Homo sapiens: one gene and its partner. The protein of the gene in region 2 interacts with the protein of the main gene of each other region in a biochemical or structural test. Each region holds a gene or a part of one and is shown on either strand. Other genes may lie near its edges.

What was found.
Region 1: the proteins of PDLIM5 (region 2) and ID1 form a complex in vitro, tested with the Homo sapiens proteins (one study listed by IntAct).

What each region holds. Positions count from the first base shown.
Region 1 is NC_000020.11:31,596,715-31,612,992, reverse strand, and holds ID1 (DNA-binding protein inhibitor ID-1), read right to left. Parts: upstream 7,705-16,278; 5' UTR 7,606-7,704; coding exon 7,180-7,605; coding exon of another isoform or gene 7,156-7,179; exon of another isoform or gene 6,941-7,155; coding exon 6,899-6,940; 3' UTR 6,483-6,898; downstream 1-6,482. UniProt on the Homo sapiens protein: Transcriptional regulator (lacking a basic DNA binding domain) which negatively regulates the basic helix-loop-helix (bHLH) transcription factors by forming heterodimers and inhibiting their DNA binding and transcriptional activity.
Region 2 is NC_000004.12:94,454,036-94,471,069, reverse strand, and holds part of PDLIM5 (PDZ and LIM domain protein 5), read right to left. Parts: intron 15,824-17,034; 5' UTR 15,782-15,823; coding exon 15,686-15,781; intron 15,252-15,685; exon of another isoform or gene 14,827-15,251; coding exon of another isoform or gene 14,512-14,826; exon of another isoform or gene 13,886-14,511; intron 1-13,885. UniProt on the Homo sapiens protein: May play an important role in the heart development by scaffolding PKC to the Z-disk region. May play a role in the regulation of cardiomyocyte expansion. Isoforms lacking the LIM domains may negatively modulate the scaffolding activity of isoform 1.

The DNA of each region.
Region 1 (16,278 bases), on a different chromosome or scaffold from region 2:
GGGCTCTGCCCGGGAGGGGGCGCTGGTGGCCAAAGGAAGACGGGGGCGGGCACAGCGCCTGCGTTTGCAGCTGCATGAGACCAGGTGCTCTGGAAAGCGCTGGCCCGCTTCCCAGCTCTTCTCTGCCGCCCAGAGATTTTAGGGTCTCAAACCCAAAAACCGGGCCGGACAGGGTGGCTCACGCCTGTAATCCCAGTGCTTTGGGAGGCAGAGGCGGGAGGATTGCTTGAGCCCAGGATTTTGAGGCCAGCCTGGGCAACCATGCAAGACCCCGTCTCTATTAAAACAACAACAGGCCGGGCCCGGTGGTTCACGCCTGTAATCTCAGCACTTTGGGAGGCCGAGGCGGATGGATCACCTGAGGTCAGGCGTTGGAGACCATCCTGGCCAACATGATGAAATCCCGTCTCTACTAAAAATACAAAAAATTAGCTGGACGTGGTGGTGCACGCCATAGTCCCAGCTACTCGGGAGGCTGAGGCAGAAGAATCGCTTGAACCCAGAAGGCAGAGGTTGCAATGAGTCGAGATTGCGCCACTGCACTCTAGCCTGGTGACAGAACGAGACTTTGTCTCACAATTAAAAAAAAAAAAAAAATTAGCTGGGCGTGGTGGCAGGCACCTGTAACCCCAGCTACTTGGGAGGCTGAGGCAGGAAAATCGCTTGAACCCAGGAGGCGGGGGTTGCAGTGAGTTGAGATGGTACCATTGCACTCCAGCCTGGGTGACAAGGAGGAAACTGTCTCAAAAAATATATAAATAAATAAAAATAAATTAATAAAATAACAAAACAAACCCAAGCAACGAACAGCACCCACAGACACGATTCTTTGTCTTCTGCAGCTATGCCTTCAAGCTTGGGCCCTGCTCGGTCTCGTCTATATATAAAGAAGAGGATCTAGGTTTGTGCAGCCTCTAAGGAAAAGAATACAACATTTTGCAAATCTTGCAAAACACACAGAAATCATGCTAACACATGGCTGATACTCTTTCCATGTGAGGAGGCTTGAAGTTTAAGCTTAAGTAATTTCCAGGTAAATGCACCTCTGATTACACATCTGCATATTTATCTACTGCGTGTCTCCCACTAAGAATGTAAGTTCCAAGACTGCAAGAATTTGTATCTGAATTGTTAACTCCTGGGGCCCGGTTCCTAGTATATTGTAGAAGCTTTATAAACTATTTGTTGAAAGAACCAGTTGGGGCTAGTTTCACAGGTAGAAGTACAATGGCCTAGCCTGAGGCTTGAGGAGTGCAAAGGTTTGGGATGATATCACTGAAACCTCAAAACGGTGAGTATAACACCCATTTAAAAGCTGGGAATGAGGCTGGGCGACATGGTGGCTCACACCTGTAATCCCAGCACTTTGGGAGGCCAAGGCGGGCAGACCACGAGGTCAGAAGGTCAAGACCAACCTGGCCAACACGGTGAAACCCCGTCTCTACTAAAAACACAAAAATTAGCTGGGCGTGGTGGCACGTGCCTATAACCCCAGCTACTTGGGAGGGTGAGGCAGGAGAATCACTTGAACCTGGGAGACACAGGTTGCAGTGAGCTGAGCTCCTGCCACTGCACTCCAGGCTAGCAAGAGAGGGAGACTCTGTCTCAAAAAAAAAAAAAAAAAAAAAATGCTGGGGATGGCAGGGTGCAGTGGCTCACACCTGTAATCCCAACAATTTGGGAGGCCAAGGCAGGTGGATCACCTGAGGTCAGTAGTTCGAGACCAACCTGGCCAACATGTAGAAACCCTGTCTCTACTAAAAATACAAAAATTGCTGGGCGTCGTGGTGCACACCGGTAGACTCAGCTACTGGAGGGGCTGAGGCAGGAGAATTGCTTGAACCCAGGAGGCAGAGGTTGGCAACAGAGTGAGACTCCGTCTCAAAAAAAAAAAAAAAAATGCTGGGGATCCTAAGAGCCCAGGAGGTGAAGCAGGTGCCCAACCAGAAGTGGCACTGGGCCTAGAACCCGCATTTGCCTTGCCTCTTGCCCTGCCTTTGCTCCCAGCCACTGTCCTCCCTTTAACCCCCCTTGCACAAGGCCTTGATGCAACCCTGTACTGGCCTGGGGCACCCTGCTTGAGGACAGCGTTGGGAACGAGGTTTTGCAAGAGTTGCAGCAGGAAGCAGCACCAGCCAGGGCAGGTCCAGGGAGATAAGGGCACCCTCGCCCCTCCCTGTGCTCCTCCTGGCCTTCTGGTTTCCTCTTCCCTTCCCTTTCCTGGAAAGTGGCGCCTGCCTGGACCCTGGCCCCAGCCTCGCCCAGCTCCTGGCCTGGCCCTGTGACTCACCTCCTTTCTTTCCGGCAGCCATGCTAGGATGTGAGACCTGCCTGCCACCAGGAAGCCCTGCTGTGTGTGACACTGGGCAGCAGGGAGCTCTCTCTGGCTGGCAGTTCCTGGTGCTCAATAAGAGTGACTGGCATGGGTCGGGTGTGGTGGCTCACGCCTGTAATCCCAGCACTTTGGGAGGTTGAGGAGGGCTGATCACCTGAGGTCAGGAGTTCGAGGCCAGCCTGGGCAACATGGTGAAACCCCGTCTCTACTAAATATATAAAAATTAGCCAGATGTGGTGGTGCGCGTCTGTAATCTCAGCTACTCAGGAGGCTGAGGCATGAGAATTGCTTGAACCCGGGAGGCGGAGGTTGCAATGAGCCAAGATCACGCCACTGCACTCCAGCCTGGGCGACAGAGCGAGACTCTGTCTCAAAAAAAAAAAAAAAAAAAAAAAAAGAGCCGGGCACGGTGGCCTCATGCACTTTGGGAGGCTGAGGAGGGTAGATCACCTGAGGTCAGGAGTTCGAGAGCAGCCTGGCAAACATGGTGAAACCCTGTCTCTACTAAAAATACAAAAATTAGCTGGGCGTGTTGGCATATGCCTGTAATCCCAGCTTCTTGGGAAGCTGAGGCAGAAGAATTGCTTGAAACTGGGAAGCGGAGGTTGCGGTTGAGTCGAGATCGCCCCATTGCACTCCAGCCTGGGTGACGAGGAAAACTGTCTTAAAAAAAAAAATAGACATTCCCCAATATGGGTTGCAAAAATTGTGATATGTGTATATTTCTTGCATTTATCTGAGTTATGCTTTTAAAACAAATAAATATAATGACCAGGTATGATTTCAGTTGGAAATAAGATGAAAGGCTTTATAAACTGGACATACTGTGGGAACATGAGGCCCCTCATAAACCTGATTTAGACAAGTCTGATTTCTGGAAAGTCCTCTAAGGTAATGTGCAATGTGGCCTTGGGTGGGTCACCTCACCTCTTTGATGCCTCCGTTTTCTCATCTGAAAAGTGAACACAGGCCGGGCACGGTGGCTTACATCTGTAATCCCAGCTCTTCGGGAAGCTGAGGTGGGCAGATCCCTTCAGGTCAAGAGTTCGAGACTAGCCTGGCCAACATGGTGAAAACCCTTTTCTACAAAAAAAATACAAAAATTAGCTGGGCATGGTGGCACGTGCCTGTAATCCCAGCTACTCGGGAGGCTGAGGCAGGAGGATCACTTGAACCTGGGAGGTGGAGGTTGCAGTGAGCCAAGATGGTGCCACCGCACCCCAGCCTGGGCAATAGAGGGAGACTCTGTCTCAAAAAAACCAAAAAAGTGAATATACCAGTAGGCCCACACCTGGTAGGGCTGTTGAGACAATCCGCTCAAAACACTTTATTGCAATATGCACTAAGTATCTACCATGAGCCTGTGCTATGCTTTTTAGGTGCATTGGTTCAATTAATCCTTGAAGCCCAGGTTCTGAAGCCCGTTTTCCAAAAAAGAAGAGGCTCTGACAGGTGAAGTGATGAGCATCAAGGTTGATTCTGGGCTTGTGTTCTACCTGCCTCCCTACTAAAATGTTAGCCTATTACTCTTGTTGTAGTGGTGGTGGTTGCTCTTATTAAAATGAGCATATGATGATAGCACTGGCCTCGTTAACAAGTTCTGACGATTAAATGAATTGATATTGTAAAGAGTTTAGCATGGTGCCCAGCACACAATAAGCTCTCTGTATTTCTTAAATAAAATTAACAGTACAGCCCCGGAAAGGCAGAGTCCAGTGCCCAAGAAACTTGGTCCTCGGGTTTCTCGGCATCTTCCACCCCAGCTCCTGGCTTCGTCCTGTCCAGGAGGGGTTAAGGAGTTAATGATTTCCAAAGGAGCAGGGTTTTGTGTGTTACATGCACACACACCGGTGGCCTCTGTCCCCCCTCCCTCTGCGAGGCCCGGAGCCTCTTATGCAAGCCGCCGGCGCCCGCCGGTTCCCAGGCCCGGCTGCAGCTGGGGGCGGAGGGGCAGGGCGGGGGCGGCGCGCTGTTTGTCTAGCGCGGCTGTGCCAAAGGCTGCGGGCCCCAGACAGCCAGGCGCCTCCGTACACCTGGGGATGCTCAGGTTAAATAGCTCCGCATTCCTCGGGCCCAGCTGATGGAAACGCTCCCAGGCCGCCGCGGAGCCGGCCTCCAGATGGGCTGGGTCTGGGCCAAAGGGGAACAGAGGGAAACGTGGAATCCAGAGTGTGCCTGAATGGCGGGGGAGGTGGCCCAGGCCCCCGCCGCAGCCCCTTCCTCCCCTGGAAAAAGGCCCTGCATGTCGGAGTACGCGAGGGGGAACCCGCTCAGACCCCGTGGGTGGGCTTGCAGGCGGGGGCCCACACGTGAGAGTGCGTGCGTGCACACGTGTGCCTCCGAGGACACTCCAAGGACTCACAGGCGACAATAATAATTTATAACTATGAAACATTCTGTGCCAAGCACTGTGCTAAACGTTTTACACACTTACTTTATTTCATTTATTCTGTACTACATTCCGTGAGGTTAGTACTGTAATACAGCAGCCGGTGGGGAGGAGGTAGCAAAGAACATAATTCGCCTGCAAGTACTGGGTTCTTCGATAAAATCCATAAACTGTGGAGGGGGTGTACCTGGCTTAATGTTAGTGCTCAAATCATAATCTTTCATTTGATTTTTTGTTCATCCCCTCTCTGAGCTTGTTCCTTCTGCTGTAAAACTGGGATCACAGTCTTGCCTTTAGCCCCACAGGGATCCATGAAATCGTTTTTGTAAAGGGTTCAGTTGAGCAGAGCCAGGCTTCTGGTGCTAAGGGCTATTGATTTTATTCTATTGTTTATTGACAAAATATATTAATAGCCCTTACCTGTCTGGGACAAGTTCTTTGTCATTCCTGGGACTCAGTTTCTCCATATGTAATACAGGGGGGTTTACCTGGCAGCAATCCTTGAGGGTTGGTGCCCCCAGGACCTAACGATAGCCCAGGGAGTTGCCACGTGAACTTTTGAGGAAGGGTTTGCCCAAACACAGCTGTCCCCACCTTCACTCCAGACCCGCAGAGGCCCAGGAATGCCAACCAATCTATAGAACAGTTATACACACAGAAACCCACAGTGTGGTTCTGTGGCCCCCAGACACACAAACCCATCCATCATGCCAGACCCATGCAGAGATGCCTACAATGCATTTAGGCAGAACACACAAGCCCAAACAGCTGGAGGTTCCACACTTATCTGCAGAACACATGTGCTCTCATTTGCCCTTCTGCACACACCCCCAAGCATACTCCTACTTACACCCCCTCCCCCAAGCCTATATGTGAACAGTTGGCCCATCCCCACTGTGGGAGTAGTGGGGGAAGATCAGCTTACTCCTGTTACATACACAGGCGTAGACACTCATACATGCTCCCCTGAGTAGAAATCCACATACATGTCCAGGAAGATTCTTAGACCCTTGCCAATGACATATTTTTCCTGCTCAGGAGCTGGGTAATGAGACTCGTCCACTCCTCAGATCCTACGCAGGAGCCCCGGGGTTGGTGGGGGAGATTTGTTTGAACTGCCGACAGAGCCAGGCCAGAGTGAGGAGGCCGAGTCTGGACCCAGAGCAGGTGTCTCGGCAGCTGTGCCCAGCCTGGCCCTGCCAACTTGCTCACCCACTTGGATGAGCCAGGAGCCCCAGGGCTGCCTGCTGGAACCCAGAGGTAGGCTGTTGGGGGAGGCACCTCCAACTGGGGAATGGGGTGATAGAATCACTGCCTCTCACAAGCTATGGCCCTAAGCAAGTCCCTTTCCACTGGGTCTCACTTTATCCACATCTTGGCAAGGAAGTGGGTGGTCCAGCGGCCAGGTTCTCCAACTTAAATGGCTTGCTCAATACTCCCAATACAGAGGGGGCCCTGGCAGGTTCATCTGCATTTTAACAACCTCCCCAGGTGATCTAGATGGCCCAATGATCACTGTGAGAAACCCCAGAGGTCTGGAGTATTTAGTTTTATAACACTGGGGAGCAGGGAAATGGGCAGGGATGGTGGGGGAAGAATAGACTTTAAAGACACCGGAAACACTCATTCAGGCCGGTAAGAGCAACAATCCAGATGTAGCCCTCCAATTCTCCTCCCAGAACCAGCTGTGAAGAGGGTCAGGGGTCAACCCCCAGCCCAGGCCCCTCCCCTCAACCCAAGAAGTCACTACAACTTTACCACCATCTAAATTATTTGTTTAATAACAAAAAAACAGCCCCACAGAACTATTGTAAAACAATATTTTCAGTCGGTGATCATTGTAATATACAATACAAAGCAATTTCCTCAGAAATCTGAGAAGCACCAAACGTGACCATTTTTTAAAATGTCTGCTTTTCAAAAAATAGAAACACACGAGTGGAATCCCACCCCCTAAAGTCTCTGGTGACTAGTAGGTGTGCAGAGAGGAGCGCCCTCTCCTCGCCAGTGCCTCAGCCTCAGCCCCAGGCTGGATGCAGTTAAGGGCGCAGTGGCCGCCGATCGGTCTTGTTCTCCCTCAGATCCGGCGAGGCGCGTTGGGGGAGACCCACAGAGCACGTAATTCCTCTTGCCCCCTGGATGGCTGGGGTCCGCCGGTCCCTGGGGGAGGCGCTTCAGCGACACAAGATGCGATCGTCCGCAGGAACGCATGCCGCCTGTGAAAACGAGAAGAAATGAGACCGGCGGGTTGGAAGGGACGCCGCTCCGAGCGCAGCGAACGCCCCCTTCCCCAGGAAGCACGACGGGGGAGCGCTTTTTCCAGGCTCCTTAGGCACCCCCGCATAGCCAGGTACCCGCAAGGATGGGACGGAAGTGGTGCAAGCGCCCACGCCCTCTCTGGCCTCCGTTTCCCCGTCGGTATAAGGATGATCTAGTGGTCGGATCTGGATCTCACCTCGGCCGTCAGGGCGCTGATCTCGCCGTTGAGGGTGCTGAGCGGAGCCCGGACCGGCAGCCCTCGGCCCCCGGGGGTTCCAACTTCGGATTCCGAGTTCAGCTCCAACTGAAGGTCCCTGATGTAGTCGATGACGTGCTGGAGAATCTCCACCTTGCTCACCTTGCGGTTCTGGGGCAGGGTGGGCACCAGCTCCTTGAGGCGTGAGTAACAGCCGTTCATGTCGTAGAGCAGCACGTTTACCTGCTGCTCGTCCAGCAGGGCAGGCAGGCGCGCCCCGGCGCCCCCGGCGCAGCGCGAGATGGCCACGCTCTGCTCAGACAGACAGCGCACCACCTCGCCCGCACCGCTCGCTGTCTTGCCGGCCTTCAGCGCGCAGCTGGGGCCCGCGGCGGCGGTGGCGGTGCTGCCACTGGCGACTTTCATGATTCTTGGCGACTGGCTGAAACAGAATGGGCAAAGCGAAAAAAATGAGGTGGAAGCCCGAAGCAGATACGGAAAATGGAACAGTTAAGAACGTGGAATGAGAGTGCGGAGCCACAGCTTGTCTTTTATAAACACGCCACGGCCCCCGGAGGGGCGGGCTCAGAACGTTCAAAAGCAGCCAATGGGCGGCATGGGGGCGTGACCCGCGCTCCTAGGTCCAGCCTCCTGCTCGTCTAGTGCCTGCTCGCAGTGTGGAAAGACGACCCGGGTTTCAGAACAGCAAGGGTGGGTCGGTGGCAGGGCACCGGGCAGGGCAGCGGGTAGAGGCGAGGGCCGCACTGGGCTCCTCTGGAAGGAGGCAAGGAAGCTAAGCAGGCATTGCCTTATAATGAAAAGACCTCAGGAATCAGTTTTTCCCATATTCACTTTCTCACTTCTCCAGCTCCATTTCACAGATGAGAGAAATTGAGGCCCGAACGGAGAAGCGGCTGGCTCTGGATAGCCCAGAGAGCCTGGGTTTCCGGACCCTCTTGGAAGATGCTTCTCGGACCCTGATCTACAAATATCAGGACCGAAATTTAAAGCGGGCGCTCCTTTACATCTGCTCCCCTGGGCTTTCTCAATTCCTAAATAATGTTGCTGTTCGTGTTCCTGAGACCCGGAGGGCCTACCCAGATCCCTCCCGGGTGGGAGCAATTAATTCGGGAAAGTCTAGTAAGTTTGGGGCTGGGTGGCTGGGAAGTGAACTAGATAGAGCGCAGTGGAGTGAGGCTGCATTCGATTCCACCTTGAATTTGCAGCTCCTTGCAAAAATTTCCTGAACCTGCAACAGTTCGTGATTTTTTAATGTTTTTTCCCATTTTTGGCTGCTTTTTAAATTTTCTTCTCAAAGACCTCAGAGCAGGGTCTCCCTCCCACGGCGCGGCAGCTGCGGAGCTACAGTCTCCCCCCTCCCTTCCCGGGCCGGTCTGTGTCAGCGTCTGAACCAGCGGCTCAGACCGTTAGACGCCAGGCCTGTGACGTCACCCATTCATAAAACCCGGACGGACTGTCAGGCTGGCGCCGCGCGGGCGGTCGCCATGGAGACGACAAACTGGTCTAGCTAGTTCCCGTGCTCCCCCCAGCCCGTCACCTGCAGACCCCGGGCGGGAGGCCTGGGAATGCGTTTCTTGCGGGCGCGGTCGCTGAGCAAGGGTCACCTTACCTCCCCGCCCCACACCTGCGAGTCTCCCAACCCAGACCCACAGCTTGGGCCGCTTGGGGTTTCTTCACCGCTCCCCCCACCTCTCCGCCCCAGCTACCCCTTCCAGCGTGGGGAAAAAGGCCTGAGTTCTCTTTCCAGCTCTGCAGCTGAGTGAATTCAGGCGGGTCGCATGCCCTCTCTGAGCCCTAATATTTAATATCTGCTTGGTGTTTAAATAATAATCACAAACGTGACCATTATTAATTTCTTACTTTGTACAGCGGGCACTGTATGAAGAGTTTGTCTTGATCATCTTTTTTCATTTATTTCTTATTTTAAAAAATGAAGGGCTGCGCGGTGGCTCACGCCTGTAATCCCAACAATTTGGAAGGCCGAGGCGGGTGGATTGCCTGAGGTCAGGAGTTCGAGACCAGCCTGACCAATATGGTGAAACCCCATCTCTACTAAAAATACAAAAATTAGCCGGGCATGGTAGCGTTCGCCTGTAATCCCAGCTACTCGGGAGGCTGAGACAGGAGAATTGCTTGAACCTGGGAGGCGGAGGTTGCAGTGAGCCGAGATCGCACCACTGCACTCAAGCCTGGCGACAGAGTGAGACTCGTCTCAAAAAAAAAAAAAAAAAAAAGGATACAGGGGGCCGGGCGCAGTGGCTCACGCCTGTAATCCCAGCACTTTGGGAGGCCGTGGTGGGCAGATCACGAGGTCAGGAGTTCGAGACCAGCCTGACCAACATGGTGAAATCCCGTCTCTACTAAAAATGAAAAATTAGCCAGGTGTGGTGGCGCGCACCTGTAATACCCCAGCTACTCAGGAGGCTGAGGCAGGAGACTCGCTGGAACCCAGGAGGCGGAGGTTGTAGTGAGCCGAGATTATGCCACTGCACTCCAGCCTGGGCGACAGAGTGGGACTCTGTTTCAAAATAAAATAATAATGATACAGGGTCTTACTCTGTCACCCGGCTTGATCAACTTCTGTAGTCTTTTTCACAACTCTAAAGAAAGGAGCTCTTTGGTTTCTTTATACAAAGGAAACTGAGGCTCCACACGACGCCTAAGTCATAACCATAGTTGTGTTATTATAAGGAGGGTACAGTGTTGTAATGCAACCGCTTCCTGCTGAGAGCAGGCAGTCTGACTGCAGAGTCCTGGACATGCCACAGGTGGGGAAACCGAAGCTCAGATTAGTCACCCAAAGCCACACAACATTAGCAGGGGTAAAAATCTGTGCTCACCAGTGGAGGGTGATATTATGGTCCCTCCCTGCTCCGCTCCACCGCACTACCCCGCAGCAATTAATTCACTGAGTTATCAGCAGGTTCCGTTTTCCCACAGAAGTTCGGGGGATGAGGGAAAAGTAAAGGAGCCTTCTGCCTCCACATCAGGAAACCAGGAAAACCAAACCAATCAGTGAGACCAGCTTCAAAAGAGAGAGACATCATCAATTAATTAGCCAGACTCCTCATCCCCTTACCACACACACCAAAACTCTCTAAACTCCCTACGCCTTGTTTAGCAATCCTAAATTAATGATGGGAGGGAATAGTTTGCTGCTCAAAAGAATTGCCAAATAATTGGAAGAACAACAGTCAACCAGAGGAAATTAGAGTATTAATTCATCACCAAGTGTTTATTTTTGTTTATTTTTGAGGCAGAGTCTCGCTCTGTTGCCCAGACTGGAGTGCAGTGGCGCGATCTCAGCTCACTGCAACCACCACCTCCTGAGTTCAAGTCATTCTCCTGCCTCAGGCTGGGATTACAGGCACCCACCACCACGCCCATCTAATTTTTGTATTTTTAGTGGAGACGGGGTTTTGCCATGTTGCCTAGGGTGGTCTCAAACTCCTGACCTCAGGTGATCCGCCCGCCTTGGCCTCCCAAAGTGCTGGGATTACAGGCATGAGCCACCGTGCCTGGCCATCACCAACTATTTATTTATTTTTTTTTGAGATAGAGTCTCAGACTGTCACCCAGGCTGGAGTGCAATAGCACAGTCTTGGTTCACTGCAACCTCCGCCTCCTGGGTTCAAGCGATTCTTCTGCCTCAGCCTCCCAAGTAGCTGGGATTACAGGTGCCCGCCACCACACCAGGCTAAATTTTTTGTCTTTTTAGTAGAGACGGGGTTTCACTATGTTGGCCAGGCTGGTCTCAAACTCCTGACCTTGTGATCTCTCCACCTCAGACTCCCAAAGTACTGGGATTACAGGCGTGAGCCACAGTGCCTGGCCTTCAACTGTGAATTAATTGATCCAGCAATTCTGTTTACTGCAATGAATTCCAGAGAAACCAGCTTGGCCAACATAGCAAAACCCAGTCTCTACTAAAAATACAAAAATTAGCCAGGTGTGGTGGTGGGCGCCTGTAGTCCCAAGTACCTGGGAGGCTGAGGCAGGAGAATCATTTGAACCCAGGAGGTGGAGGTTGCAGAGAGCCGAGACCAAGCCACTGCACTCCAGCCTGGGCGACAGAGTGAGATTCTGATTCAAAAAAATAAAAATAAGAGAGAAAATTATGCTGTAGAAATTAATTCAGGGCCAGGCGCAGTGGCTCACGCCTGTAATCCCAGCAGTTTGTAAGGCCAAGCCAGGTGGATAACCTGAGGTCAGGAGTTCGAGATCAATCTGGCCAACATGGTGAAACCTCATCTCTACTAAAAATAGAAAAATTAGCAGGGCGTGGTGGTGCACACCTGTAATCCCAGCTACTTGGGAGGCTAAGGCAAGAGAATTTCATGAACCCAAGAAGTGGAGATTGCAGTGAGCCAAGATGCCACCACGGCATTCCAGCCTGGGTGACAAAGCAAGACCCTGTCTCAAAATATAAATACATAAAATAAATAAAATGACATAGTATTTGTATAAAACCTATGCATATCCTTCTATCCACTTTTTTTTTTTTTTGAGACGGAATCTCGCTCTGTCACCCAGGCTAGAGTGCAATGGCACGATCTCCGCTCACTGCAACCTCTACCTCCCAGATTCAAGCAATTCTCCTGCCTCAGCCTCGCGAGTAGCTGGGATTACAGGTGCCCACCACCACACCTGGCTAATTTTTGTATTTTTAGTAGAGATGGGATTTCGCCACATTAGCCAGGCTGGTCTCGAACTCCTGACCTCAGGTTATCCGCCCTTTTCCACTTCCCAAAAATGCTACACTTGCAGGCGTGAGTCACCGCGCCCGGTCTTTTTTTGTTTTTGTTTTTTGTTTTTTGAGACACAGTCTCGCTCTGTCCCCAAGGCTGGAGTGCAATGGCACGGTCTCGGCTCACTGCAACCTCCGCCTCCCGGGTTCATGACATTCTCCTGCCTCAGCCTCCTGAGTAGCTGGGACTACAGGTGCCCGCCACCACGCCTGGCTAATGTTTTTCTTTTCTTCTTTTTTTTTTTTTTGAGATGCAGTCTCGCTCTGTCGCCCAGGCTGGAGTGCAGTGGTACGATCTCAGCTCACTGCAAGCTCTGCCTCCTGGGTTCACGCCATTCTCCTGCCTCAGCCTCCCGAGTAGCTGGGACTACAGGCACGCGCCACCACGCCCGGCTAATTTTTTGTATTTTTAGTAGAGACAGGGTTTCACCGTGTTAGCTAGGATGGTCTCGATCTCCTGACCTCGTGATCTGCCCACCTCGGCCTCCCAAAGTGCTGGTATTACAGGCATGAGCCACTGCACCTGGCCTTCTTTCTTTTTCTTTTTTGTTTTTTGAGACAGAGCCTCACTCAAGTCGCCCAGGCTGGAGTGCAGTGGCATGATCTCAGCTCACTGCAACCTCCGCCTCCCAGGTTCAAGCAATTCTCTGCCTCAGCCTCCCGAGTAGCTGGGATTACAGGTGCCCGCCACCATGCTCAGCTAATTTTTGTATTTTTTTTTTTAGTAGAGACAGGGTTTCACCATCTTGGCCAGGCTGGTCTTGAACTCCTGACCTTGTGATCCACCTGCCTCGGCCTCCCAAAGTGCTGAGATTACAGGAGTGAGCCACTGTGCCCGGCCTTTTTTCTTTTTATTTTTTGAGACGGAGTCTCGCTCTGTTCCCAGGCTGGAGTACAGTGGTGCGATCTTGGCTCACTGCAACCTCTGCCTTCCAGGTTCAAGCGATTCTCCTGCATCAGCCTCCTGAGTAGCTGGGATTATAGGGGCCTGCCACCACACCTGGCTAATTTTTGTATTTTTCGTAGAGATGGGGTTTTGCCACATTGGCCAGGCTGGTGGTCTCCAACTCCTGACCTCAGGTGGTGATCCACCCGCCTCTGCCTCCCAAAGTGCTAGGATTACAGGCGTGAGCCACCGGGCCGGCGGTCATTCCTTCTTATTGCTAAGTAGTGTTCCATTATATGGATATACCACCATTTGTTTATCCAGACATTTGGTGAGGGGCATTTGGATTGTTCGTAGTTTTTGGTTAGTAAAATAAAACTGCTATGAACTTTTTTTTTTTTTTGAGACAGAGTCTCGCTCTGTCGTCCAGGCTGGAGTGCAGTGGCGAGATTGCGGCTCACTGCAAGCTCCGCCTCCTGGGTTCACGCCATTCTCCTGCCTCAGCCTCCCGAGTAGCTGGGACTACAAGCGCCTGCCACCGCGCACGGCTAATTTTTTTTTTTTTTTTGTATTTTTAGTAGAGATGGGGTTTCACCGTGTTAGCCAGGATGGTCTCGATCTCGATCTCCTGACCTCGTGATCCGCCTGCCTCAGCCTCCCAAGGTGCTGGGATTACAGGGGTGAGCCACTGTGCCTGGCCATGAACTCTTGTATACAGGTGTTTATGTGAATGTATACTCAGTCTTGCTCTGTCGTCCAGCCTGGAGTGCAGTGGCACAATCTTGGCTCACTGTAACCTCCGCCTCCTGGGTTCAAGCGATTCTCCCACCTCAGCCTCTGGAGTAGCTGGGATTACAGGCGCCCACCATCACGACTGGCTAAGTTTTGTATTTTCAATAGAGATGGAGTTTCACCATGTTGGCCAGGCTGATCTTGAACTCCTGACCTCAAGTGATCTGCCCACCTCGGCCTCCCAAAGTACTGGCATTACAGGCGTGAGCCACCACAACTGGCCGTATTTGTTTAACTTTACAAAAGAACTGCCAAACTCACTGGGCACAGTGCATGCCTGTAATCCCAGCACTTTGTGTGGCCGAGGTAGGCAGAATGCCTGAGCTCAGGTATTCAAGACCAGCATGGGCAAGATGGTGAAACCCCATCTCTTACAAAAAGTACAAAAATTAGCCAGATGTGGTGGTGCACACATGTAGTCCCAGCTACTTGGGAGGTTGAGGCAGGAGGATTGCTTCAGCCTGGGAGGTTGAGGCAGGAGGATTGCTTCAGCCTGGGAGGTTGAGGCTACAATGAGCCAAGATCATCGTGCCACTACACTCCACCCTGGGCAACAGAGTAAAACCCTGCCTCCAAACAAAACAAAAAAACCCAGCCAAACTGTTTTCCAAAGGTGGTTGTATCATTTTATATTCCTATCAACAGTATTTGAGAGGTCCAGTTCTTCCACATCCTCTCTAACACTCCAACAGTTGGTATGTTGTATAACTACAGTACAATATCACAACCAGAATTCAGGTGAAATTCAGTTTTCTTTTTTGTTTTTTGGAGATGGAGTTTCGCTCTTGTTGCCCAGGCTGGAGTGCAATGGCATTAATCTTGGCTCACTGCAACCTTTGCCTCCCGGGTTCAAGCGATTCTCCTGCCTCAGCCTCCCAAGTAGCTGGGATTACTGGCACGCGCCACCACGCCTGGCTAATTTTTTGTATTTAGTAGAGACAGGGTTTTACCATGTTGGTCAGGCGGGTCTTGAACTCCTGACCTTAGATGATCCATCCGCCTCGGCCTCCCAAAGTGCCGGATTACAGGCGTGAGCTACTACGCGTGGCCTTTTTTTTTTTTTTTTTGGAGACAGAGTGCTCTGTCGCCCAGGCTGGAGTGCAGTGGTGCGATCTCGGCTCACTGCCACCTCCGCCTCCCAGATTCGAGCAATTGTCCTGCCTGTCGAGTAGCTAGGATTACAGGCACACGCCACCACGCCTGGTTAATTTTTTGTATTTTTAGTAGAAATGGGGTTTTGCCATGTTGGCCAGGCTGGTCTTGAACTCTTGACTGCAGATGATCTGCCCGCCTTGGCCTCCCAAGGTGCTGGGATTACAGGCATGAACTACCGCGCATGGCATGAAATTCAGTTTTCACCCAATTTATATGCACTAATTTTTGTGTGTGTTTTCAGTTCTATGCAATTTTTTCTTCTTGGAGACAGGCTCTTTCTCTGTCCACCAGGCTGAGTACAGTGGTGCAATCACGGCTCACCACAGCCTCGACCTCCTGGGGTCAAGCGATCCTCCTATTTAGCCTCCCAAGTATCTGGGACTACTGGCATGTACCACCACACCTGGCTAATTTTTTATTTTTTTGTAGAGAAGGGGTCTTACTATGTTGCCCCAGGCTGGTTTAGAACTCCTGGACTCAAGTGATCCTTCTTCTTTGGCCTCCCAAACTGCTGGGATTTACAGGCATGAGCCACCACACCTGGCCTTATCTTTTACATGTTTAAGGCCTGACAAGGAGTTTAAATAAAGATTGCCTGCTTATCTTGTTGTCAGATGGGCATTTTTCTGGCCTTGTTGGTAGTGTGAATTGAGTGTGCATTTTCTTCCCAGTCCTCCTTTCCTGAGTCACCTTAGGAAAACCGACACTTCTGGTGGCCAGGAAGTTCGGAGGGCTCCTTAAATGAACCCCCATATTCCCAACCCAGCATTCATGGTCATAGTCTCTCAGGAAGCCCTTTTCACATACCTGGCACATCTGATTTCACAACTGCTCCCTGGAGCTGGTGCAGCTGTATTATTGTAATGCCCCATTTCACAGATGGGAATATTGAGCCCCAGAGAGAAAAAGGGACCAGCCCTTCACTGCCTCCAGTCCTGGCTGTGCCATTGACAAACTGGGCCTCAGTTTCCTCATCCATAAATTGGAGCTAATGCTCATCCCTCTTCGTAGGGTGGTTGTGAGAGTGAAATGAGCCATACCAGGAGCCAACTGCAGCACCTGGTGATAAAAGGGAGTGCACTTTCCTTAGGATTTTTCTGTCACCACACCTCCTTCTCTGCCTTCCAGGGTGCCTCCTCTGGCCTCCAGAGCTCCAGGCAAATGGCTTACATTTACTAAGAGTTTCCTCAATGCCAGGCCTGGTTCTAAAGCATTAATTGTGTGCTTAGAAGGGAAGGGACCACGGAGGTCCTGTTCCCTGCTGTCACGCAGAGCCTCATGCAGCACCTGGCATGTGGGAAGTGCTCAACGAATATTTGTTGAATTAGAAATAAACAGCCTGGGAGCACTTTGGGAGGCTGAGGTGGGTGGTTCACCTGAGGTCAAGAGTTTGAGACCAGCCTGGCCAACATGGTGAAACCCCATCTCCACTAAAAATATGAAAAAATTAGCCAGGCCTGGTGGCGGGAGCCTGTAGTCCCAGCTACTACAGCTACTA
Region 2 (17,034 bases):
GTCTTTGCCATGCTGCTCTCATGATAGTGAAAAAGTCTCACGAAACCTGATGGGTTTATAAAGGGGAGTTCCCCTGCACATGATCTCTTCTCTTGACTGTCGCCATGTAAGATGTGACTTTGCTCCTCCTTCGCTTCCACCATGATTATGAGGCCTCCCCAGCCATGTGGAACTGTGAGTCAATTAAAAAACCTCTTTCCTTTATAAATTACCCACTCTTGGATATGTTATTAGCAGTGTGAGAACAGACCAATACAAATATGAAGTATGAAGTTACATAATTTACTACTTCATAATGTAGACATTATTATCTACTACTGAGGACCTAGAGCTATATGATACTGATGACATTTTTGTCAATTACAATGTTGAAGGCTGAAAATCTGAATTTACTGAAACTAGACATTAACTCTAATCAAGTGATCTCTCTGAAAGTTCAGAAATGAAAAACATATTAAAACTTATACACACCCTCCACTAGAAATAATAAAAGGGTCATAAAATGTAACTCTTGGCATTGGGTATATTAGCCAACCAATTGGCTAAAATATTCTTTTTAAAAATAGATATACTGTAAAAATTTTTTCAGCTCAACAGATCTGACCTAGAATAAACATCCTAACACTCACTTTGTCTTTGAGGCAAATTCTAATAAATGTGTTACCAGCATAATTTGTAAACAACTCCTGAATGTGTATGCAACATTTCTTTATTAAAGTAGAAAAGGTCGTAACATCACAAGGAAAGGAAAACAGAAGCCATCTGGGAGACAAGCTACATCTAACAATAAAAAATAACAAAATTTAGGCCAGGCACAGTGGCTCATGCATGTAATCCCAGCACTTTGGGAGGCCGAGCTAGGCGGATCACGAGGTCAGGAGATCAAGACCATACTGGCTAACATGGTGAAAACCTCTCTACTAAAAATACAAAAAATTAGCCGGGTGTGGTGGCATGTGCCTGTACTCCCGGCTACTGGGGAGGCTTAGGCAGGACAATTACTTAAACCCGAGAGGCGGAGGTTGCAGTGAGTCGAGATCACGCCACTGCACTCCAGCCTGGGCGACAGAGTGAGACTCTGTCTCAAAAAAAAAAAAAAAAAAAAAAAATTAAAAGAATGCAAAATAGGAAAAATATAATCAGTGTGCAAATAATGAAAAAAAATCATGTATGTGTTAGAACTATAACTAAAAATTTTCAAGACAAACATATATTTAAATGAGTGTTTCACTTCCAAATAGTCACCTCAGAAGGCTATACAGTTATTCCTTTGCTCAAAAAAAATTTTAAATTCTTGCCCTGGAATTTCTATCAAAAGCAATTTATGAAACATACCAGCCTGGAGATATGGTCAGATCACCATAATAGTAACCCACTCTCTCTAGCTCAGCTCTAATCCAGAGGAATCAAAATCCATCTAAAATCCCCAGGAGTTGTCCTACCATGGCCTCCAATGTTATCCTCCTCATTACCAGGAACCTCTTTATCTCTCACCCTGGCACTGGACATACTCCCTATTCTCACTCCACTTTCCTCCTTGCTCACAGCATTCCTGCCACACTAGCCTTCTTTCTATTTCTTAAACACATTCAGCTCTTTCCTGTCTCAAGGCCCCTGCACTTGCTAATCTCTGTGCCTGCAATGTGTTTTCCCAGCTCTTCACGTGATTAGTTCTCATTCTTAGGTCAATGCTGCCTCCTCAGAGGGCCTGTATTGACTGTCCAATCTAAAAATGAAACTCTTACCCCTAAACACCCATCCCTTTCCTCCAGTTACTCTCTGGCACATCACCTTATTAAATTACATTGCTTATGTTTTTTGTTTTTTTTGTGTGTGAGTTACCATTCCCCCTTACTAGACTATAAGGTACATAACTTTGTTTTGTTTATCACTGTATTTTCAGTGCATACAACAGTACAGAGCACATAGCTGGCACTCAATAAAGATACAGAATAAATGATTCTGTCTGCCACTACTACTTTTGTGTCTGCCCCATGGGTTCTATAAATCCTAGTCTAGAAGTTCCCTGCAACCCTGACACAGGCTATGTGATCAACGCTCATCTTTTCCTTTCCTAGATCTGATGACATTTATGTCCTCTCCTATGTCCAATCTCCTTCCTACATTTCATATCATGTGCCATGTGGCCTTTGTCAGAAAATGGAAAAGCACACTCTATATCCAAGGCCCAGAACATGGTAAGAGATCAATAAATATGTGTTGACTAACACCTCTTCTTATGGCTCTGACATGTGTCATTCAGAAAACCATACCAACAGGACATAACCTGCCATACTGAGAATTTACCCACTTCTCCTAAAAGATAGTAAGTAGTAACAATAAAATCGACAAGGACTAAGTTTGACTACACCTCAATTATGTTTTTCCTAAATTTATTCTCATGAGTCTTTGATTTCTCATCCAAACACACACCACAGACATATGCACCTAAAAACAAAACAAACAAAAACATCTGCTTCTCTTAGGCTCTCCTAATCTCCATATTATGTCCAGACAAGCCTAAATATGCACATGGACAGAGCACAGACTAGGTTTAGTTTTCTTTCCTTTTTATGTCTTCTCTTAAACAGAAGACATAGAAATTGTAAAAATTTCAAGCAGTACAAAAGTGCACAGATGCCAGGCACCGTGGCTCATTCTTGTAATCCCAGAGGATCACTTGAGCCCACATGTTTGAGACCTGCCTGGGCAACAAAGCAAGAGCTCATCTCTACAAAAAATGTAAAACATTAGCTGGGCACAGTGGCGCACACCTGCAGTTCCAGCTACTTGGGAGGCTAAGGCAGGAGGATCGCTTGAGACCAGGAGTTCAAGGCTGCATGGAGCTCTGATTGTGCCACTGCACTCCACCTGAGTGACAGAGCAAGACCCCATCCCAAAAAAAAAAGTGCATAGAGGGAAAAAAGTGAAAGTTCCATCAAGCTCATTGCTCAGAACAGCTTCTAAATCCCACCATCAAGTCATACAAAAATCAGTTTCCTTACTTCATAATTAAAACTTTGCATTGGTCTTAACATATCTGAGGTATTAGGTTCAGTTCTAGGAGTTGACTTAAAGAGACAATTAAAACCTAAACTACTTTTAAAGGTAAATGCTAAGGGATGTGAAGATAGGGAAGCTGTCATGAGAGAAACATTTGAAGAAATGGCTTCTTACAGAATATCCACAAGACTCAAAGGGAAATATAACTCATTCCCCTGTTTGAAAGGCTGTAATGTGCAAACATGCATGTTTGTTGTGCAGGGCACTAAAGAAAAGAAGTAGAACTGTTGGGTCGGAAAGACAAAAAACAAATCCTGGCTGACACATGGGAAGACCACCTTGGGAAGTAAGGGTCTATCATATAATGTAACCTCTAGGATACTTCCTAGAAACTTAAATCCTGATTAGGATTGAAAACAAGGAAAACCAAAATGTTTCATTAAAATGTCTCATTAGGCCAGGCACGGTGGCTCATGTCTGTAATCCCAGCACTTTGGGAGGCTGAGGCGGGTGGATCACGAGGTCAGGAGTTCAAGACCAGCCTGGCCAAAATGATGAAACCCTGTCTCTACTAAGAATACAAAAATTAGCCAGGCATGGTGGTGGGTGCCTGTAATCCCAGCTACTCAGGAGGCTGAGGCACAGAATTGCTTGAAGCCGGGAGGCGGAGGTTGCAGTGAGCTGAGATTATGCCGCCACACTCCAGCCTGGGCAACAGAGCGAGACTCCGTCTCAAAAAAAAAAAAAAAAAACTTTCCTCAGTTAATTCTATCAATCAGGTACATTAACAAATCTAGAAGAAACTTGATTGCAATGGCAACCCAGCTTCCCATTCGTTCTCTATTACCACTGTGATCATTAATAGTTACTGAACATGTACTGGGAATTCTAAAGTAATCTTGAATAAATAAGACTCGGGGGTTTTCTTGAGTGATAAGAGAGGCTCATGATCTAACAAAATACATGAACTATTCATTATACTTAAACTGTACTGCTGTGAAATCTAACATGGAGTCCAAATATTTGAATTGATCTCTCTGGCCATGGCCTTAAAAGACTGTAACTTGTTTGTTTTAACTTTAATGAAACCACTTTATCATGAGGTGTAAAACAAAACCTAGTATAGCCAAGGATTTCTCTGTAAGTCTCTGGTAAATCTAACATTCCGTATTAACTGTTAAAGCATTAAAATATTATAAATAGCATGCCAATTTCAAAGTCCTCCAAATCTTTCATTTGTCATAAAGGTGTTTACAGCATCATAAACGTAACTAATACCTGACATCATATATTATTAAAACTGCCATTTACTTCTATAAAAGACTTGACCTATGGTGACTGAACTCTGAAAAATCAGGAAGAGGCTGGCAGTTAGAGAAAAGCAGATCTGTCACATTATTTAGTCAACTCCAGTTCAAATTCCAAGTAACTTACCCTTAACATTTTTGCTGAAATGATCTAAGTAACAAAAGCTCTATAATAAAATTTTTTTTTTGTTTTTACAAAAGCAAAGCTACATATGGTTCCCAAACATAAGTATACAAAATGGAACCCAACTGGTGCAGGTGAAACATCTAGAAAGCATGTTAAAAATGTGGAATCTAATGAATCCCTAAATATCCTAAATTCAAAGTCTGTGTCAAAGTCCTTGGATCCACACTTTCAAAGTCTCACTGATGATTCTGACTACTAGTCAGTCTGGAAACCAGTTATATATTTTTTTGTTAATAATCTCAGTTACTCCCATACATACAAGTTTTTGATTCTCTAGGATCTATTCTCTGGTTAAGAAACACACAGACCTGGCCCAGTGGCTCAGGCCTATAATACCAACAGTTTGGGAGGCTGAGATGGGAGGATCACATGAGGTCAGGAGTTACAGATCAGCCTGGGCAACATAATGAGACCCTGTTTCTACAGAAAATTAAAGAATTAGCCAGGCATGGTGGCATGCACCTGCAGTCCCAGCTGCTTGGGAGGCTGAGGTAGAGGTAGGAGGATCACTTGAACCCAGAAGGTCAAGGATGTAGTGAGCTGTGACAGTGCCACTGCACTCCAGCCCATGCCACAGAGCAAGACCCTGTCTCAAAAACAAAGGGGAAAAAAAAAAGAAACAGACACACACACACATACACACACATACACACACATACACAAACACACAAATTTGGCTATCTCTAGTGAGAACTGTCATCTATTCCTCGGAAATAAGAGCATAACAGGTAAACACATTATTACTACTCAGTTTGGCTGGTTTCAAATCCTGAGCCTAACCAATTATCAGCTGTGTAACTTTGGGCATGTTACTTAACCTCTCTGCCCCTCAGTTTCTTCATCTCTAAATCAGAGATTTAAAATTGTACTTCCTGGCTGGGCAAGGTGGCTCATGCCTGTAATCCCAGCACTTTGATAAGCTGAGGCGGGAGTCAGGGGTTTGAGACCAGCCTAGCCAACATGGTGAAACCCCGTCTCTACTGAAAAAAAAGAAAAATACAAAAATTAGCCAGGTGTGGTGGCACAGGCCTGTAGTCCCAGCTACTCAGGAAGCTGAGGCAGGAGAACCGCTTGAACCCAGGACGTGGAGGTTATAGTGAGCCGAGATCATGCCACTGCACTACAGCCTGGGTGACAGAGCGAGACTCCATCTCAAAAAAATAAAACTAAAATAAAATAAAATCACACTTCCCCATGGGGCTGTTATGAGAATTAAATAATCGAACATGTACAAAACATCTAGAACAGGACCCAAACAGTAACAAGGGATCAATAAACGTTAGCATATTTTCATTATTATCATTATTATTTAATACAGGAAAGAAAGGAGACCGAATTGAACTGGAATAGTCAAACATTTCAGAGAGCAAAGGATACATGAATGTTCCTAGAGGAAGAGATAGGGCTTTAGGGATGATAAGAATAAACAAAAGTAGTATGCAAAAAGAATAAAAAGACTAAGAACTTCAGGGTTCAAAATTGGCATTTTGGACTATAAACTCAAGTTATATTAAACGGGCCCATTTATATGCAACTTGAAAACCAACCAGAGAAATTAAGTAATAATTCAAAAGATAATGGGAAGCTCATACAGTTCTTAAATAAGGCAGTAATATATTAAATATAAGTTTCTAAAATTATTGCCTAGTCAAGATGCTAGCCTGAGGATAAGGAACCAGCCTGAAGGAGAATAAGCCATTGATGAATTTTGGAAATACTTTTGTCTGCTAAAATAGCAAAGAATCACTCAGAGAACTGGACACCAAATAACCAGAATCTTCCAGAATAGACAGAGGTACATTTAAACAAAACAGAAACGTCTACCCTAAAAAGATCAAAACAACCATTTGTAGGATATTTGCAAGTGAGTAGCATAAAGATACTTCAAAGGAATGACCAAAATCATGGAAATTATATGTGTAACACGATAGCTAGCTAGCTAGATATAATTTCTTTCTCCAGAACATTTCTAAGGGGTCCTAGTTAAGGGACAAAACATTTGTTTTCTAAAGGACATCTGTCCTCCGGTAACGTTTTCTCAGAAGAAAAATACTTTCAGAACAAACATACTTTCAGAACATAGTCTGCTCTGGCTAGTGTTATACAGCCTTACTAAATCTCTTAATTCTACCACTTCCAAAAGTTAATATCCCAGAAATCATTTGAAAAATACTGGGCTGTTAATTAGATCTCAATGGAACTGAATCACAACACTTAAATCCCTGATCCAATCAATGGTAAACAGCATTAAATTGTTAATGTCATTACCGTAACTACTTTCTCTTTTCTTCAATTAAAATTTAGCCAGGACAATTATCATGAAGTACAGTGGCCATTGTTAAATCAATCTCTGGACCTTGGGGAAAAAAATGTTTAACAATTCACAGAATCCAAATAACAAGTGTTGCAAATTCTTCTCTAATTCAAAACTCTTCTCATCATATTTAACATTTACAGCAACACACTAAAGAGAAATTCCTCCTTTCCTCATCTTTACTACAAAAAAATATAAATATCCCTGGCATCCTTACTCTTTTTGTTACTATAGTTACCAACACATACACTCTGCTGCTCACACTAGGCTAAAATGAGTAACTACCTTGTGCCACACATTAGTATACCTTCACAATGCCTGACTCACTATGCTACAGAACACTCTATAAACCTACCTGATTTCAGTTAACTTCCATTAGCTAATAAAGGTTGATAATAAAAACACACTGAGTCTCATAAGGGTGAAATTTGCCATTCCTCGGACCATAGTGAACACCTCATAATGGTCAGTCTCCTTGTCACATCATTTAAAAGGAGCTAAAGACTAGAATTCAAAACCACACATACAGTTGACCCTTGAACAACACAGGTTTGAACTGCACGGGTCTACTTACAGACAGATTTTTTTCAATAAAAGTTACACCAAGTGTGCCCAACTCTCCTGCTTTCTCCTGCTTCCCTTCCACCTCCACCTAACCTACCTGGCACACCCTGAGACAGCAAGACCAACCCTTCCTCTTCCTCCTCTTTCTCAGCCTACTCAAAGTGAAGATGACAAGAATGAAGTCCTTTATGATGACTCCCTTCCACTTAATGAACAGTAAATATATTTTCTCTTCCTTATTTTTAAATGTTTTCTCTAGCTTATTTTATTCTAAGAATACAGTATTTAATATTATAACATACAAAATATGCATTAATCAATTGTTTATATTATGGGTAAGGCTTCTGATCAACAGTAGGCTATCAGTAGCTAAGTTTTGGGGGAGTCAAAAGTTACACATGGATTTTTGACTGCACAGGGGGTTGGTGCCCCTAAACCCTGTTTTGTTCAAGGGTTGATTGTATATCAGCCTACTGAACAGATTCCAAAGTTAACAACTTTGAATCTATTAAATGTGATTTGCTTAATTTTCCAAAAAGTCTATGACAGGGCACTATGCCAAAAACACAAAATCTTTTGCCATGTAACTGGGAGTAATAGGTTAAGATAGAGAGGAAGTTAGTTTAGAAATGGGAAACAAATGATGGAGATAATTACTAACAAAAGCTCTGGACGAAAGAATTCAGAAAATGGCATCTTTAAGAAATTAATGGTATCATTTAAAGAAGAGCAGCATGTTTTTATTTCCTAGATTATCTTGCAAAATGGAAAACAAACCACTTGAAAACACAGAAAATCCTTTGTAAAATACTTGTGACTGAGCCCTGTAAAAAGAAGACAGGTGGAAACTGGCCCATCTGATTGGAAATGATCAAGGTCTGTTGAAACTTAGGCTAGCATAGGTATGGGGAAATAGGCATCCTCATATTATGAGCAGGAGTGTCTCTATAAAGACGGCAATATCAGTCAAAATTACAAATGCATACACCCTCTGACTCATCAATTCCATTTCTAGGAATTTATGTGACAAATATACAAATATACAAACATATACACATATATAGGCAAAACTTAAATTCAATGTCAGTAAAAGCAAAAGACTAGAAAAAATTTAAATGTCTACACATATATATATACATATATGGGCAAAACTTACACTGCAGTGTCAGTAAAAGCATAAGACTAGAAAAAAATCTAATTGTCTATCAATAGGAACTGATTTAAAAAATTATGACAAATCCAAACACAGTGTAGTGGTAAAAAAGGAATGAAGAATGAAGATATATTTACTGATGTTGGGTTAAGTGAACAAAATGCCAAAAAAAAAAGTATTTCTATTAAGCATACTATTTGTGTTAAAAGGAGGGTGGGGAGGAGATATACCTATAGATTATCTCTGGAAGTATACTACTAACACAGGTGGCTTCCAGGAGGAGGAAATGAACAGCAGGGCACCAGGAGACATTTCCCCCTATACGCTCGTGTATCTTTTGAATTTTGAACCATATGAATGTCTTACCTAAAGAAAATTAAGCTGGGTGCAGTGGCTCACGCCTGTAATCCCAGCACTTTGGGAGGCTGAGGTGGCTGGATCAAAGGTCAGGAGTTCGAGACCAGACTGGCCAACATGGTGAAACTCTGTCTCTACCACAAATACAAAAAAATTAGCTGGGCATGGTGGCGAATGCTTGTAATCCCAGCTACTCAAGAGGCTGAGGCAGAGAACTGCTTGAACCCAGGAGGTGGAGGTTGCAGTGAGCCGAGATCGCGCCACTGCACTCCCGCCTGGGTGACACGCTGCAGCCTTTTAAAAAGTCCTCTTTATTTTTTTCTCTCATCTAACTTTTTCTTTCTCATTCCCTCCTATTAACATTTCCAGTTCATTTTACTCTCCTCTATTTACGCCTATTAGGGACATTTACTACAACTGCTTAGCCCAGTTGGGAGTCCAGTTACTAAATGCCAACAAGGTTGGTGAACTCTGTTCTAGTAATTGTCATAAAAAATGGGTGACAACATCAGCTATAAAAGAAATCTGAGTATTTACAGAAGGGTAGATAACTATACTTAAACAGGAAACAAAAAAATAAGAAAGGTGAAGGAATAAGGGGATACTCATTCAATATTCTCTGCTTTGTCCATTCTTAGTTTATTACCTTTAAAAAAAAAACCTCTTAATAAAAACAAAGTACGCTAGAAAAGTGATTTTTCCCTCTCTGTTAATTAAGGAACCAAACCTGCCTTCTCAACAAGACTATATAGTGGCCCAACACATAGAATACCTAAAGAATCAGTAGACACCATGGTCACTGCTCTTTAGTTACTTAATGTTTTCTCTTTTCATTTCCATTAGGTCATTTATTTGCAAACAGATCCACATATTGTTATTTCACATGCTAATATCTAGTTTTGTCAAATTTTATGTCACGTACTCAATATTTTTTGCATCTCAGATACTGAAATAAAGGCCTAGAGTCTCATCTGCCAAAGTTGAAACATAATTCTCTCTCATACGATGCTAAATAACTCCTTTTTTGTCTAAAGCAACGTTTGCTTCTAGAAATAACTAAATCATAACTGATTTGTCCTCAATACAGTTGTAACTGGGGGAAAAAGATATAACTGGTCCTGTGGTATATGGGAATCTGGGTAAGAACTACTGCTAACAGGATGTCATAGACAAAGACCACTGTTCAACTGTGTATTCACATGTAGTGTGACTAGCAACTATCATAAAGAAAAGCTCTTTGCCTCAGAAGTTCTAAAAAAAATTGAAAGCTCACAGGCTCCAAATTATTAATAATAATCAAATCTACCTGTATACTTTTTAATTTATAAAGCATTTCCCATACATCAAAGAAAATCAGAAGCTCAAATTAATGAACTGATTTTCCAGCTAAGATTTAAATCCAAGTCATTCCAATATACAGCTGTACATTATCTATTATCTATCTATTCTTAGTTTAAGTAGGTAGATATACCTAACTCACGAGTAGATGAATAGTTACATGAAAACGTTCTTTCCCAAGGTCTAAAGTGCTATTCTTACCTTTTTTTTTTTCTTTTTTTTTTTTGAGACAGGGTCTGGTTCTGTGGCACAGACTGGAGTACAGTGGCATGACTACAGCCCACTGTAACCTTGAACTCTTGGTATCAAGTGATCCTCCCACCTTGTCCTCCCAAAATGCTGAGACTACAGGAGTGAGCCACTGTGCCCAGCCTGCTAGTCTTATTTTATCCAAACCCTACATCGGTTTCCTCCATCAGATACAAAAGTCCTGCCTACCAGTAACATTTCTCTGAATAACTTTTCAAAATGCCCAACGTTTACTAAAATCAAATAAGTGCGTTTTTTTCTAAAACTACTAATTTTCAATTAAAAAATATAAGATTTTCATTTCTTTACAAATCATAGAGCAGAAAAATTTATCCAGAATTACATTGAGATTCCTGACATTTGTGACCACAAAACATATAAAACTGCCACATGGGAAAAGACAGGTCTCTGAACTTCACACAAAAGGTAATTAATATTTTTAAAGCAGAGTGAACACACATGTGAAATATACATCATATAGTTATACAAACTAAATTAATTTTCTAACTTGGCATAATGACAGGGTAGCTTGGAGGGAATATAAAAGAAAATACTCAAGAGCTTAAAATTAACAATGGGCCCATTTATTCAAGGTAGGATGGCTCTCTCATTTCAGCTTGAGGACTGAAAGTCTTTCTGTCTTCCGGTAGGAGGGAAACTGCAGCTGGCAGGTCTGGAGAATCGCTCAACTACATTCACAGCTTTACTTGGAGTCAAGCAATGGCAAGAAAAGTCTTCATCTTCACTAGGCACTGGACAACACGGAGAAATGCTGACTTTGAGGTGTTTAAATTTCATCCTTTGAGGATCAGTTCAATTAACTTCTCCTAAAGGAAACCAACCCCCACAAACAAAAGATTTACACCCACTGAAACTGAGAAACACTTATCAGAATCTGTCATTTCATAGAATATTGACTTGTGACAGGTCTTACGACACTGTCTAGTTCTATAGCACTGTGCTTATTTCTTTTCCATCCAACCTTTGTACTCCCCACTTTGTATCTTCTTCAGTGGCTTCTAGGAAGTATTACTATAACTACTGAATCAATGAATTCATAGCAAAGTGTTTCACAATTCTGTCCTTCTCTGTTCTGTGTTAGACTCCCAAACAGGGCTCCATAATCCAAGCAATAGTAAGTTTCTTCTGCTTTTCAAATCCAATTAGAATTTTGTCCAAGCTTATAACAATTTATCCTCCCCTAACTCTTGAGAATCAAAGTCATTGTTATTTAGATGTTAAAAAGTTTGACCTAATTCTTATCTCTTAAAGAAACATCTAAAATGTGTTTACAGAGAATTGGGATATCATCTTCAGGTAATCCAAATATTGACAGTGAAGAAAAGAGCCCAAACATAATGAGAAAGTAACACACAGCAGAGTATTTCAACTTTAGGATATAACAACTTAAAAGATGTTACTCACAAATATATAATCTTTATCAACTGGCCAAAATATAGCCTTGAATTATCCAACAAGTCTCCTATTTCTTGTTATAAAATATACTGGCAAAAACCAACAAACCCACACTGCTACAATGAAACCCATCCTCACATTCCATGGCTTCAGGGCAATTCCATAAACACAGGATCATAAAAAGACAGCCTGCAAACTTAGGTAGCCCGCACTCCATTTTAAGGATCGGAAATTAAATGACATGTGATCATCCAGCTACAGCAACCTGAGGATCTTTTTAAAAAGCTAGCAGGAACTGGCAATCTTATGTTAGAAATCCACCAACAAAACAGTATACAAAATTCATACAATACAGATGATGAAGAAATTTGAGTCCAACGTGAAAATGTTATAGCTTGTATGCTTTAGGATACAAGTTGTATTCAGCATATTCACATGCTGATACAACAAAATCTAAAGAAAATGGAATGTTCAAGTCCCTGCTAGTGGCTTATCTCATAACACAATTCGATACACCAGAGCTCCAGTGTTATAAAGGAATGTAAATGACCCTTTGGAGTTCAACATAATAATACCTAATCAGAGGAAAAATTGCACAGTTTTGAACTCTAAAGATGCAGATTCCCAGCTAAGTACAAACTTCTGATTTTTTTTCCTTTCTTAATTTCAGTGGACAATAAGTTTAAAAAAACAAAACAAAACCATAACTGTATGTTCCCTACAACTACGGGGGTTAAATATTTAATGTTTCAAGTCTCTAAATAGTTTTCTTTTTAAAGTTTATAATATTATTATAAAAGATAATTGAGAGACTGCCAGACCTTGCTAAGAATTTCATGTGCATTATTAAAGTAAGTGAATCATTAAATTACATGTTTTAAGCATGCTTTCAGGTTTTAATTGTTTCTTGATACTATTAATTAAAGAACCTGATGACCAGTAATATCCCAGTAATTTTACATAATTAAGGCAGAAAAAGTATAACCAAAGAACTAATTAAGATGAGAGTAAGTTAAAAATTTATAACATTAACAATCTTACCACAATATAAATTAGTTATTAAACGCAAACCTTTATTAGGCAATGTTACTAGGCATATTTAAACCACACAAGGGGTTAAAAATAACTACAATGAAAGGCCAAGAGCCTAGCAGCCCGATTGAGCCAACATTCCCTTCTCTCCTTCCCCTCCCCTTCCAATCCTCTCCAGTCCAGAATGAATTGCATGCCCCACTGCACAAGGCCCAAAAAGGTCACAGTAGATGGCAGAGACTTTTGTAAGAGAACAGAAATAACTCAGCAGCTTTGTTACCATAGTCTCTTTTAATCAGTATGTTCAAAATCCTTTAATTAGCACTCTGTCTACACAAGGAAAGCATTTCTTCTGTGCCAGGGGAGGGCACATATGTATGTACACAGTGTTCTGTTGTATCAGCATCACAACATGGAGCTAGTACCTCAAACTGTCTGCCAGGAAACTGAAGCACATGAAACTTTTTTAAAGACACGGTACCACAAAATTCGCAAACATACTCTATTTGCATTTCTATTACCACACAACAAAGTGATAATTAAGTTTGGCTCATTTAGGTGTCAATTTGTTTCTGAACTTTTTTTCAGCAAAAAAGTAAGCATTTAAACTAATAACTTTCTTTAGATAATTAAAGTAGAATATTTAAAATATAAAATGCTAACAAAACGTAAAAACCAATAATACTCAAAGATTGCTCCTGTTCCCATAATAGATCATCAGTAGAAGAAATAAAATACCAACTCACTCAAACAGGAATAAATCACATGACACATTTTCACATGGATGCTTTACATTTAAAATTTCATCTAACCATGAAAGGTGTTAAAACTTGCAGGCTGGATTACATATATATACTTCCTTATAAAATCTAATTAACTGAAATCAAGGCAGAAATTGATGATAAATTAAAGATAACTTTAAAAAAATCCACAGCCAAGAAACAAAGGAGACTCCGTTAGTAAAATGGGATTTGCAGTATTTTAATAAGGATATTTAGGCGTTACAAACTTATTTTTAATCTTTCAAAATGAAGTTGGATACACATACAAGATGCAGAGTATGTGTGTGTATATATATTTATACATACACATATATTATTAACCAAAATGACAATCTTCTAAATATCTGATTAAAGAAACAACTAACTAAATTTAAGGTAAAGTGAATTATTAAAGAGGCAGCACAGCATAACTGTTGGAAAGCCAGCTCTTCCATACAGTCATGTGAGCGCACAGCACAGTTATATACAATGGGAATAATATCACTATTTTGCATGTTGGTATGATAATTAAATGAGATGATGCATTCACAGCACTTGATAAATATCCAAGTTTGTTGGTAAGACTGGCACAAAAATAGTATTTTCATGCGTTGCACAAAAGTGTAAATTGGCACAACCTTTCAAAATGACGTAGATACATATATTCACATATATATGTATGTACTTATATTTGGTATTCACTGTACCACTGTAACAGTAATATGGAAATGCCACAAATACTCTTCAGTAGGGGATTGGTTAAATGTCACTTTCCTTATAAAATAAAATTATACAATTGTTTTAAAAAAACACACATACCTCCTTATATATTAATAGAGAATGATCTCAGGGTAAATTGTTGCAAAAAAAAGCAAAGTATAAAACAGTGTGGGCCAGGCACGGTGGCTCACGCCTGTAATCTTAGCACTTTGGGAGGCCGAGGTGGGCAGATCACCTGAGGTCGGGAGTTCAAGACCAGCCTGACCAACATAGGGAAACTTGGTCTCTACTAAAAATACAAAATTAGCCAGGCGTGGTGGCACATGCCTGTAATCCCAGCTACTCGGGAGGCTGAGGCAGGAGAATCGCTTGAACTCGGGAGATGGAGGTTGTGGTGAGCCGAGATTGCGCCACTGCACTCCAGCCTGGGCAACAAGAACAAAACTCTGTCTCAAAAAAAACTGTGTGTATAATATGCCACCATTTGAGTAAAAGAAGATGGAAATTCATATTTATTTGAATATGCAAAAACAAACCTTTTAGAAACTTATATAATAGTAATAATTACCTACTGGTGATGAAAGTGAAACAGTACCTGACATATAGTCAAGTCTCAATAAATAGAAGCTTTAATTACTCCTCTCATCAGTGCTATCATCATCATCATGAAAACATATCCTTAAAATATATACACAGAATACATTCAAACTAAATCCATAATGAGGTAAAAAGCCAAATCTCAATTATTCATAGGCTATCTAGTTGGAGCTCCAAGCCCTTCATTTCCTCTTCAAGGGTAAGTAGCTTTTGGCCATCTTACTGTTGGCTATCACCTCCACCAGAAAGTGAGCTGAGGAAATAATTCCGAAACAATCATTTTATTCAATTTTGATCAACAGTTTTTAACAAACAGCTTTTGGAACTGAAAGAGATTATTAAAATCCCATAGCACAACCTTTGAAAATTATATATGAAAGAACGAAGATTCAGAGAATTCCCCAAATTAGGGACAGTTCAAAAATGTACAGTCTGTTCCTAGTTAAATGCTTTTTCCATTTTATTATTGATAACATGGGGGAAAACGAAAAGAAGTTAAATTGAAGTCAGTTATCCTTGCTAAATCTACTCCCCTCATCCTTTATTATAGATAATCAAATTTGCCAAGATCAAATCCCAGGAGCAATGATAATAAGTAGAGTACAGGTCAACAGAGAATTAAACAACTCAGCCCGAGGACTAAGCACTGAATGAACATCTATAATAAAATTTGTAAAGTTTACTTACACTAGAGATTGTCAGAGGCATGTTGAAATCCTTACCGCCCTGCAGCCGGAAACCCCAAGGAGCTGGGCCAACCAGTGACACACTGTAGTTGCTCATGGTTCTAATGGCTCAAAGTCCAATGACAGAAAATGAAATATGCTGTGAAAGAAAATCAGATGATTAGCAAAAATGTTTACTTGAAACCCTAGAACATAAATTATGTTTAGTATTTTGTTTGAGGGGGGTGAGAGGATATAGAAGATAAGTCTTAATTAAGTTCTTCATTAATTTCAGTTTAAGAAAAGCAATCTGTGAGCTAATATAAATTTTCTACACTCATGGCAATTTCCATGGTCTAAAAATTCCATATCAGAATACATTTCTAGACACTTAGTATGTTTCACAACTTGCTTCAATCCAATTTTGTGGCTTCTTGCATGCAAAGTTTAACTCAAAGTACTTTACAATACTTCACTAATGTAGCAAGATTTTATTTCAGGTTGAATTCAGAATAATTTTCTCCTTCCCTCCACTTCATGTATTCTTTTGTCTGCAATTGACAAGAGTCTTTCAACTGCACTTACTTAAATTCTAAGTTACTCTAACATGTGAAAGAGACTGCAAATCAGTAGGCTCCCATTCATGCTTTCCAAATACTAAATTCTTTACAATGAGAAGCTGTTTTTCAATGCACAAAACTATTCTCTCCAATCATGAACTACAACTTGTATTTCCTCCTATGGGGACATGGTATTTTCCACACTTAAAGTGATATCTACTTTTCCTTCAGATAGTCAACGATAGGCAATACTCTAGTACAGTGATGTTAGTCACAACCTGCTTTTTGTTTTATACACACACCTCACCAGGCAGAGAGTAAGCATTTGCCACTCAGTGAATAAGATTATGACTAAATACAGCAAAAGTGCTGGGTTAATGCATTCAAATGGAATTGGCAGTTTAGAAAAGAACCAGTGCTTCGGTGCTTTCTTTTGTCTGTTCTGCTGTTAAGTGTGCGTGTGATGACTCTCCTAGTAGTACTTTCATATAATTTTTAAAAAGCAAAAAAAAAAAAAAAAACTTCGAGTTTCCTATTGGTTGTTATAACGGCAGGAGACAGAGGAATGAAGTTTTCTTTTGTTTTAATGGAATACTAAGAAACAATAATTCTCTCTCTTTAAAAAATATTAAAAACATAACAGATATGTAATTTTATATTAAAAACATACTTCCTTGGAAAATGTAAGCTATTCAACCAAATCACCACCTAATATTACCTGTCTTAAAATATGTTTTAACCCATTCAAAATTTCTAGCCCATCACCCCAAATTCATAGTTGCAGATATAGATATTTGAGCCATAGGTATAT